2 separate regions of the Homo sapiens genome follow, and region 1 is linked to region 2. Evidence: fine-mapped expression QTL. Tissue or cell type: whole blood. Region 2 holds a variant in brackets; the other region holds the start of a gene. All regions are shown on one strand. Distances are from middle to middle.

Region 1 (5,112 bases), 60 kb after region 2:
GTTTTTAGGTAAGCAGGTCCTATAGGGGTTTTGGACTTAAGGTCACACAGTGAAAAAGAATGGGACCAGTGGCTCTGTGTCCACAAATGCAAAAAGAGGGTGCACTAAGGAACCTGAACTCCACTCTCATTAGCAACTCCACAAAGGGAAGGAGTGGAGCTCACTGGGCCTGGGGGTTGGATACGACATACCAGAGTCTGGGAGTGAGGGGGCAGTTGGTCTAGGGGTTCAGCTGCCATCTGTCACGGTGGGGACGATTAACTGACCCGAGTGGTGGGAAACTGTGTAGGGAGGAAAGAAGGTGGGACATTTGGGAGGAAAGGGGAAGGTGCAAAGTGCAGTCTGCAGGGCCAGAAGTAGACCTGGGACCAGGAGTGACTGAGGCAAGGGAAAGGGGTGGGAGCGCCAGAGGGTCTTCTCTCCTTAGAGGGGGCAGTTGGTGGGAGGAGTTTGGGGGCTGAGTCCATACCTCCTTGATTTTCTCCCGCTGGGCTCGCACTTGGCTCTGGGGCTCCTGACTCTCATCGGCCCTCGTTCCCAGGACCGGGTGGCGGAGACGGCTCCGGAATGCGTTGAAGTCAAAGCGGAAAGGGACGCCCTCGTCCCCGGGCCTGGAGGCCGGGATGCTATTGCCCCGGGCCGCCGTGGCCTCCTCGCGGGGTCCAGTGGGGCGGGTGCGCCGCAGCCCCCCTTTCCTGCGGCGGGGACTGGCCCAGCTGCTGGGGTCATCCTCGCCCGGGGCCGGCGCGGCGGGGGCCGGGTTGGGAGGCGGCTCCTGCTCGCGGGCCGGGGCATGGCCGGCGATTTCAGCCACCACTTCCAGACCAGGCTGCTGGGTCCGGGGGGCCAGGAAGAGGCGCTTGAGGCGAGAGGAGTGGGGCAGCAGGAAGAGGGCCCCGAAGCACAGGGTGACCAGGCCCGAGAGGAAGAGGAGGAAGAGGAACTTCTGCGGCAGCCGCAGCCCCCACGGGGAGGCCGGGACGAAGCCGGGCACTTTCCTCATGAGCATCGTGGCCCGGCCGGTGGCTCCAGAAGCCCTCGGAGTCCAGGCACGTGTCTGCGGGGGCGCGGTGAGGGGAGGGCGTCCGGAGCGCCGCCCGGGATGGGGGTCCCTGGGCAGGGTTGCCAACCCTGAGAGTTTCGCCGCTTCGGGGGACTGTCCCCGAAGTTCAGGGAGTTTGGAGCGAGTCCTCCCGCGAGGAGGCGGGGGCGCAGCGGCCTCGGCGGGGCCCGGGCGAGCGGAGCGGCACGGCTTGGGGCCCGGGCCCGCAGCGACCGGCCGCGCGCCGCAGCCTCCCCTCCGGCCGAGCCCTCCCCGCCGCGCCGGGGCCCGCGCCTTCCCGCGCTGCGGCCGCCGGGACCGTCACATGCCGTCCGCGGCGTCCCGGCTGTCCGCGCCGAGGGGCGCCCGCAGGCCCGCACCAAGCCGCCCTCCGCCCCCTAGGCTCCCGCCCGCGCTGGTAGGCGCCCAAAGTTTCAGCTTCAGAAGCAGTTTCCGGAGGGGACCGAGGCGATGGGGGGCTGGCGTGTCAGCGCCGCCCCGAGCGCGCGCACACCCGGCCCGGTCGCGACAGCGCCCGGGCTCGACTATCGGGACACGTCCACAACTTTCTCCGCCGCGGAGAGGGCGCCGGGAGCTGGGAGCCGGAGTGGCCAGGGAGCAGGAGCAGGCACTTCCGAGCCTGCGGGGGCAGGGGGCTTCCCCCGGGCCCCAGACAGCGCAGGGATGCCTGGGTCCGGAGCCGCGGCTGGGCGGCTGCAGATGCGCCCGGGAGCGCGGGCTCCCGCCCCTCGAACTCGGCAGGGCGCGGGGCTCCCACTGGGATCACCTGTTCCCGGCCCCGCCGGCTCCGCGGAGCGCGCAGCCCTGGCCGCGCCTCCCCCGCTGCAGCTGTCTTCCTCGCAGCGGCCGCTCCAGACCGGCCGCTGCCGCCGAGCCTGCGCCCCACACGCGCGCACAGCCACCCGGCCGCCTCCACCGCCGTCCCCGCCGCCGCCGCCGCTCGGGCTTTCACTGCGACAGCGCCCGCCGCCCCGCCTCCTGCCGCCCGCCGGCCACGCCCGCCGGCCACGCCCACGCGCGCGCCCCGCGCCCCCTCCCGCCGCCGCCGCGCCGCAGCCGGCTGAGGGCCGCGCGTCCGGGGGCGGGGCAGAGGCCGAGCGCGGGCGGGAGCGCAGCCCGCTCCAAGCCCCGCCCTCCCCGAAGGGCAGGCGTCGCGCGCACCCCCCATCCAGCGGGCGCCAATGGTCCAGCGGCGCGGGGCAGGCGAGGGCGGGGGCGGAGAGCGCAACGAGGGCATTGGCTGCATCCGAGGGATCCCCGTTGGGCCACAGTCGTCCATTGGTTACTGCCCAGCCTTCGCTGGACCCCAAGCGACAGAGACCACCCCCCAGCCCGCCCGCGAGGCTCGGGTTGGTGGCCCCCGGAAGCGGGCCGGAGACGGTGTTGCTCTGGAGGGGTGTGCCCGTCGCTGGGTGACCTCTCTCGCCCCCGAGTGCCAGCCCGGGGTTGTCAGGGAGCTGGCAGCCCGCGCCCTGGCGGCTGCCCCGGGCTTCTCAGCGCTAACGCCGGGCTGCAGGGGTGCTGCTGGTGGCTGGAGCCAAGCCAGAGAGCTGTGACCGCGGCCGGGTCGGCGGAGGTGATGTTTCCACTGGCCCCCTCGCAGACCACTGGCGTGCCTTCCTTTTCCCACAACCCTAAACGGGGCCAGGGCTCCTGGGTGGAGCACGGAGGGAGGCTGACCGCAGCCTTGAGAAGCAGCGAAAGGAAGAGAGCCCCGGGCGTGTCTACAGAAGACCACACACATAATGTGACGGACGTCTACCTTGATGCCTACGTGTGTTTATATGCACATGTGTGCGTCTGGGCATAGATCTATATGCACACAGAGACTGGCATGTGGGTGTGTACATGCACTCAAACATACACTTAATTTGGGTATGGACACCCAAGTGATTATACCACAGTATGCATAGACATATATGTAAATTAGTACAAACATGGACATGTGCACCCGCATACCCACAGACACTCAGGCAACAGATAACCTCCAAAAACAGCCAGGCATCAACTCCCAGACACGCGTGTCCTCAACCCCAAGGCCCTCACATCTTCCTCCTTGGACTTAGTCTCTGCATCTTCCCTTCCTGTTAAACCTAACCCAGGGTGAAGCAACATTGTGCTGTGTGGGTCTTTCATGCAAAACACTTTATAGAGACAAATAACAGCAGAGGGAGAGACAAATTAAGAGGTTTGTAATAGGCAAGAGGGAAAATATCTACTTTCAGCTGCAATTTAAAATGAAATGCAGTGTTGACGAGACAGAAAATACTGCAGGGAAGCCTTTCCCGACAGAAGAAGCGGGCCAGGCAGGCTCTCGCCTCGTAAATCTTGCTTCTTCCCTGAGGCCTGCTGGGGATGGGCGGCTGGGACTCAGTCATCCTTCTACCTCTGGCCAGACCACTGACAGCAGACCCACCCTCGATGTTTAAATATCCCTGGCATGCAACTTTCTCTCAACTGAAAATGAAAGTGGGTAACAGGTGCAAACATTTTGGTCACTGGAGATGACTAATCCTTCCCAATCCCACAAATATATGCAGCTTAAATATAAAATTCTAATTCAGATATTTCAATCTCTTGTGAGTTTCGTTGGCAGGTTGATGTGGAGCCAGCTGTGCAAATCAGAGATAAGCATGTGACCCATTTGGGTGCAGGAGCCCAGAGACCTGGCCTGGCCTCACCCATGTCTCCAACACCCAAGCATCGCCTCACTGGGTCCCACTGCAGGAAAGGGCAACCTTGTCTTTGGAGAACCAGGCAGGGACCCAGCATTCATTAGAGTCATCATCTGTGTTGTTCCTCATTGAGAGTGTAGGGGAATCACTGTTCAGTCCCCTGTGAAGGTAGGATCCAGAAAGGGAGAAGAGCAGAGCTGAATCTCAGAAGGAAATGTCTGTTTGAACTAGATGCTCACTGTGATGTGACACTCTGACCAAACTCTGGTGTGCTCTGTGAGCCAGGGTGGAAAGTGGGGCTGCAGCAGGACTGACGTGCCTTTCACACTCAGGCTATGAAAACCAGAGGCCCCAGCAGGTAACTCCATTGCAAAGTGATGTGATGTTGGTGATCACACCAAGTTGTTGATACCATCACTTGCTAGGGAGATACCAGTCTCTCTAAAAAGCTCTCTGAAACCCTGGGTGTCCCCTTGCCCCACACCTCTAGCCCCCAGAGACCTCATACATCCCGTGGCTCTTCTCCCACTGACTTTTAAAGACTATTGGTGTGTTGTCACAAAGCAGATGCTCAGTTCTTCACCACGGCTTCCTCACTTCTCTAACTCTCTAACTTCTCTAACTGCCCCGGGTCTTAACCACAATGCCTTCCACATGGGCACTGTGTTTGCTCAGTAAATGAATGAAGAAATGAGTGAGTAGATGCCCATTTCACAGATGTAGAAACTGAAGCTCGGGGAATGGAAGAACAGTGAACTAACATTTTCTATGTGCCAAATACATATTGTCTTATTTACTTTTCAGAATAATCTTTGTGGTAGATAATTATTAATAGCCCCATTTTACAGATAAGAATACCAAGGCTTAGAGAGACTTGGGATGAGTTATAAGTATCTATATTAATCAGAGTTCTCCAGAACAGAACCAATAGGCTATATATAGATATATAAAAAGAGATTTATTATGAGGGATTGACTTCTGTGATTATGGAAGGCTGAGAAGTTCCACAATCTGCCATCTGCAATCTGGAGGTCTAAAAAGCTGGTGGTGTAGTTCCAGTCCAAGCCAGGAGGCCTGAGAACCACAAGAGCCGATAGTGTAAATCCCAGTCTGAGTCTGAAGACCCGAGAACCAGGAGAGCTGATGTCCAAGGGCAGGAGAAGATGGATGTTCCAGCTCAAGCACAGAGCATGGATTTGCCATTCCTCTTCCTTTTAGTTCTGTTTCAGCCATCAGTGGATTGGATGCTGCCCACCCATACTGGTAAGGGCAGATCTTCTTTACTCAATTTACTGATTCAATTACTAATCTCTTCCAGAAATTCCCTTACAGACACACCCAGAAGTAATGTTTTACCAGCTATGTAAGCATCCC
Region 2 (5,193 bases):
ATTAATATGTAACGCCCTTTTAAGAGATTACAGCCAGACAGCATGTTTTGCCCACCACTGTGCAAAACTTGGTGAACAGGAAACTGTTTAACGATTTTGAGACAATACGGTAAAGTAGTTCACTTGGGGAGATAAAACTAACAAAATGAACAATCATCACTTATATTTGTGCAGCTCTTTGCATATTTTATCTCATTTGATTTGGCCAGTTCAGTGGGCTGGACAAGACAGATATTTGTTCCATTTGGAAATAATTATGCAAGGGCTAAAGTAGGAGATGTAAAGTAGTAAATAGGTATTAAAAATTGTGTTTACAAATGTTTCATGATAGGCAAAAATGCTCAGTATATATTATTAGGTGGAAAGGCAGAACACAAAATTACATAGTATGAAATTCACTGGCCTATGTATGAGTGTTTACAAAAAAGACTGAAAGAAAATATACCAAATTCTTAACAGCGGTTATGTCTGATAGAAGTTTAGTGATTTCTATCTTTTTCTTCTTATTGACCTATATTTTCTGAATTTTCTACAGTGAATATCTAGAAAGGTTTTGTGATGTGAAAAATACAGGTTGTTAAAATGAAAAACAAAAAGAAGACATCGTATGGTGCTACCCTTAAGTCAAAAGCAAGTGCCTGGGTGGTCAGCCATGGGGTAGGTCGGACCAAGTTAGGTTTTGATTAAAAAAAAAAAAAAAAAAAAAAAAAAAGGAGGTCTTTACAGCAGGGAGTCAGAGAGAAGGTCACCCAGCAAGAGAAACAACATCAAACAGAAGCACAGATCCAGAACTCCAGAGTCAAAGAGAATTTTAAGACCAGAAACATCATCTATTCTCAAAGCCACATTTTATAAGAATATAGACTCAGAAAGGGAAGGGACTTGCCTCGGCCAGGACACAGACACTAATAGCACAGAGATAACCATGTCTCTAAGAAACATGGGCCAGGGCAGTGCAGTAGCTGACTGGGGAAAGGGCCAGAGCTACAGCAAGAGATACTCAGGACAGGTGCAAGAACATGACAGTCGGAACCAATCAACATGAGAACTATGCACCAAAAGAAACTGTACCCCTGTCCCCACTAGGTTCTAGAAACGCGCAACAGGCAGTCATTGTGTGTGTGTACGTGTGTGTGTGTGTGTGTGTCCCTGCTAGAGATAGAGGGTGGCTCTAGATGGTCTCTGGAAGCCCCTCCCTTCCTGTAGCCTGTGATTTATAGATTCAAAGAGCACCTAACAATAGACCACAAAGCCTTCCCTTCACTCAAGTCTTGCAAAGGTGGAAAACAAAGCTCCAATGATAGAGAGATACAGGCAGAGCCATCGGAGCTGAATCCCAAGAAATCTCTTCAGTTCTTCCTCAAACAAAAGATGTTCTTGTCTACCTGAACAAATCAAAATGACACGGAATTTTTTAGTGCAAAATATTTACTAGTGTGAGGCAGAACATTATTATTTGGTTTAAGATTTTCTTTCTACCTGTCTCAGAGCTCAAGAGTTCTCTCCTGCAGAAAAGAGACTAGAATCGATCACCCAGGCACAGATGCCCACTCAGCTGAGGACCCCAGAACAATGAGATCAAGAGAGAAAGGATGCATTAGAGGAGGGGAGGACACGTGGGTGCCAGCAGACCACTCCCAGAGTGGAAAACTCCAAAGTTTGTGTTGGACAGTTCTCTGGGGGTACAACTTGGAAGGAAGGGGGTGAGCATTGAATATTGAGACATTCTCCCCCACTTTAAAAAATCACACACATACACACAAGGCTGGCTCTGGCAGTGACCCAGAACCACAGTTGCTACATTCAAAGCTGCCAAGGAAGGAAATGGATTTTCCCAGTCATTAAAGACAAGTGCTCACACCATGACGTGCAGCCTTACTGGCGTCTCCCAGCAGTGACACCTGGCCCCATTTGCAGGGGCCAAGTGGGAAGGGATTTGGTCTCTAACGATCCTGGGATCTAATGACTATGTAGACAGAGAGCTTAGAACATTGGGTTGATTTTTTTCTCCTCTTCCACTTTCAGCACAGTCCAAGGGAAGAGCTGACAGCTTGGCACCTAAAAACTATCCACGTTGGATTTTCTGATCCAGTTCCATTTATTGGGGCAACACAACATGACCTGGTTGGTGACCCCAGTGAGGCTCCTGCAAATACACAGCCCAGGTCTATCGCTCAGAAGCTGGGCACGGGTGGGGTTTGGTTGCCCGGGGAGGTGAAGCGGGGGAGTAGAAGGGGAGATGCTGCCTCCAACCCTCTCAGTTTCGGGTTTACTCAAGCTATTGAAAGGCCAATGTGGGAAATGAGCATATGATACAACTCCCACCCACCTGAGGTCCAGACAGCTCACCCACATCCTGCCCATGGGGTTTCAGGTTTGAGCAGTCTCAGGAATCGCATCCTGTCTGCAGCTGTTTCTAAGGCATCAGGGTCGAGAGTGTGGGCCATACAGGCAGAGAAACTCT[C/T]GCTGCTCAAAGTGCTCCAGGGACCAGGAGTAGGGCCACCCAGGGGGCACGTCAGAAACAGAGTACCTCAGTTCCACTCTCCCACCTGCTGAATCTGTAGCAGCAGTTTAACAAGAGCCCCAGGTGATTCAAACGCACATTGAAGCTTGAGAGGCTGCTCTAGGGCTCTGCCACCTTACTGGCTGTGTGGCCTTGAGTGAGTGACTTAACCCCTGTAAGTCTCAGTTTCCTCATCTGTAAAAGGACAGAAATACTTAATCCTTAGAATAACCCTAAGAGTAAATAACAGATGTAAAGTGTTGAGCACAATGGCTCGTATATAATATGTGCTCAATAAAAAGCAGCCATGGCATGGATGTGGTGAAAAGTGAACACTTTTACACTGCTGGTGGGAATATAAGTTAGTACAACCACTATGGAAAACAGTATGGAGATTCCTTAAAGAACTAAAAGTAGAACTATCATTTGATCCAGCAATCCCACACTGGGTAACCACCTCCCCCCCCCCCCGCAAAATAAGTCATTATATGAAAAAGACACTTGCATACACATTTATAGCAGCACAATTTGCAATTGCAAAGATACGAAACCAACCCAAGTGCCCATCGACCAATGAGTGGATAAAGAAAATGTGGCATATATACACCATGGAATACTACTCAGCCATAGAAAGGAATGAAATAATGTCCTTTGCAGCAACTTAGAAGGAGCTGAAGGCTCTTATTCTAAGTGAAGTAACTCAGGATTGGAAAACTAAATATTGTATATTCTCACTTATAAGTGGAAGCTAAGCTATGAGGACACAAAGGCATAAGAATGATATAATGGACTTTGGGGACTCAGAGTTGGGGGAAAGACTGCAGGGGTTGAGGGATAAAAGTCTACATATTGGGTACAGTATAAACTGCTCAGGTGACAGGTGCACGAAAATCTCAGAAATCACCACTAAAGAACTTATCTATGTAACCAAAAACTACCTGTACCCCAAAAACTACTGAAATAAAATGAATCAATCAATCAATAAAAAGCAGCCACAGGATACTGCTATCCTATTAACGTATCCACTAAAAGAGAAGTATCTCTCCATCCACTTCTCTTTGTACCACCACCATGAGCACCACCCTAATCCAAACCACTCCCATCTCTCCATGGAACTCCTGCGACTGCCTCCTGACTGGCCTAGATGGGTCCTCCCTGGCTTCCTACACTGCTCTCCACATTGCAGCCAGGGTGGTTATTTGAAGTGCAAATTTATTCATATCGCTCTGCTTCATCCCAAACACACACTTAAATAAACTCCTTCTTGAGGCCCATCAGGCCCAGGAAGTCACCCACTCACGCCTTCAGTCAGCTTATCCTCCCCATCTCTGCCACAGCCACACTAGCTTTCTCTCTCTTTTCCTCAAGGAACCATGCCTCCCCCTGCCACAGGGCCTTTGCACACAATAGTCCCGCTCCTTGGACAACTCCTCCCTCCTCTTTTTGCCTGGTGAATTCCACTCATCTTTCAGTGCCCAGGCTTGGTTGCCACTTCCAAGAGAGGTCTTCCCTTCAGGTTGAATCACCCTATTATGGAGGATTATTAAAGTCAAAATTTTACATTAGTTGTGTGATTAATTAGTATCTATTTCCCTGCATGATTATGCAGGCTCCACGAGGCTCTGTTGGCTCCATTGCTCATTACTGCTCCCTAGCACCTAGGAGAGTACCCAGCACATAGAGACTTTCCATAAAAATATGTTGATTAAATGACTAAGGATGGTGACAACACGAGGCAACCTCTAGGGCTGCTCATGTCAAAGGATTAAGGAGGATGCCTGGGACAGAAGCACTCACTGCCCAGTGGCCTTGACTCAACAAGGATTTATCAAAGGCCCAATAAAGGGACAGCTCCAATTGTGAGGCCACAACAGCAAGAGCAGGTGAGACCCTTCCCAGCGAGGCTTTGGTCTTGGTGCAGCGTGCAGACAGACAAGAGCAGCTGCACAGAGAAGGCCACCAAACCTGGGAGCCACTGCATTGGGACAGGTCCCCAACCGCTCTGTTCTATCACAGATTGGGTGTTAGGTGGGGGCAGGAAGACAGCGTGTGGGGGACAAAGATGAGTGACAGTGGGAAAGATCTTAGGTCACCCACAAGTGAAATTCCAATGCGAAATGGTTCAACAAAACCTGCCCATGTGCAAGTGTCTCTACCATTTCCAAAATGCTTTGCCTTTTTCATTTGAGCCTTACCGTCACCTGTGAGTTAGGCAGGGTAGGGGTAATCACCCCCATTTTACAGCAAAAGAAACCGCACTTCCACATACAGACATTTATGGGACATATTGTGTCATGCACACTGCTAAGTGCTTTTGTATGCATGTGCACATGCCGTTTTCACCACATCTCTGTGACGTGCTCCTGGGGAGGAGGTAAGGCATAGCAGTTCAGAGCCTGGCTTTGGATCCTGGCTTTACCCAGCTGTGTGTCTTTGGACAAGATACTTAACCTCTCTGTGCCTCAATCTGTTCATCTGTGTAAAAATAATGATACTGTTATATTTACCTAGTGTTTTCCATGAGTCATCAGTGCTTTACATATAAACTCATTTAATCTTCACACTAATTTTATAGGACTGGTATAACATTACTCTCATTTTCAGGTAAGGAAACTGAGGTACTTGCCCAAGTATCATAGCAAGTAAGCAACAGAGCCAGGATATGAATGCAGGTGGTCTGTGCTCACAGC

What was found. PIP is the estimated chance that this variant, and not a neighbour inherited with it, causes the effect.
Region 1: it holds the start of MAN1C1, and the variant in region 2 is fine-mapped to the expression of MAN1C1 in whole blood (INTERVAL, PIP above 0.99).

What each region holds. Positions count from the first base shown.
Region 1 is chr1:25,613,695-25,618,806 of GRCh38, reverse strand. It overlaps MAN1C1 (mannosidase alpha class 1C member 1), which reads right to left and starts at 2,016. Exons shown (of 12, transcript NM_020379.4): 1 at 470-2,016. The coding sequence starts at 1,009. RefSeq lists silencers at 1,791-2,080, 2,101-2,390 and an enhancer at 2,581-2,750.
Region 2 is chr1:25,673,366-25,678,558 of GRCh38, reverse strand. All of the region lies in intron 1 of MAN1C1 (mannosidase alpha class 1C member 1), which reads right to left. Among named protein-coding and RNA genes, the nearest start is that of MAN1C1, 59 kb to the right of the region's middle. RefSeq lists an enhancer at 2,116-2,165 and a silencer at 2,246-2,315. The variant C/T (reference allele first, on the strand shown) is at 2,465.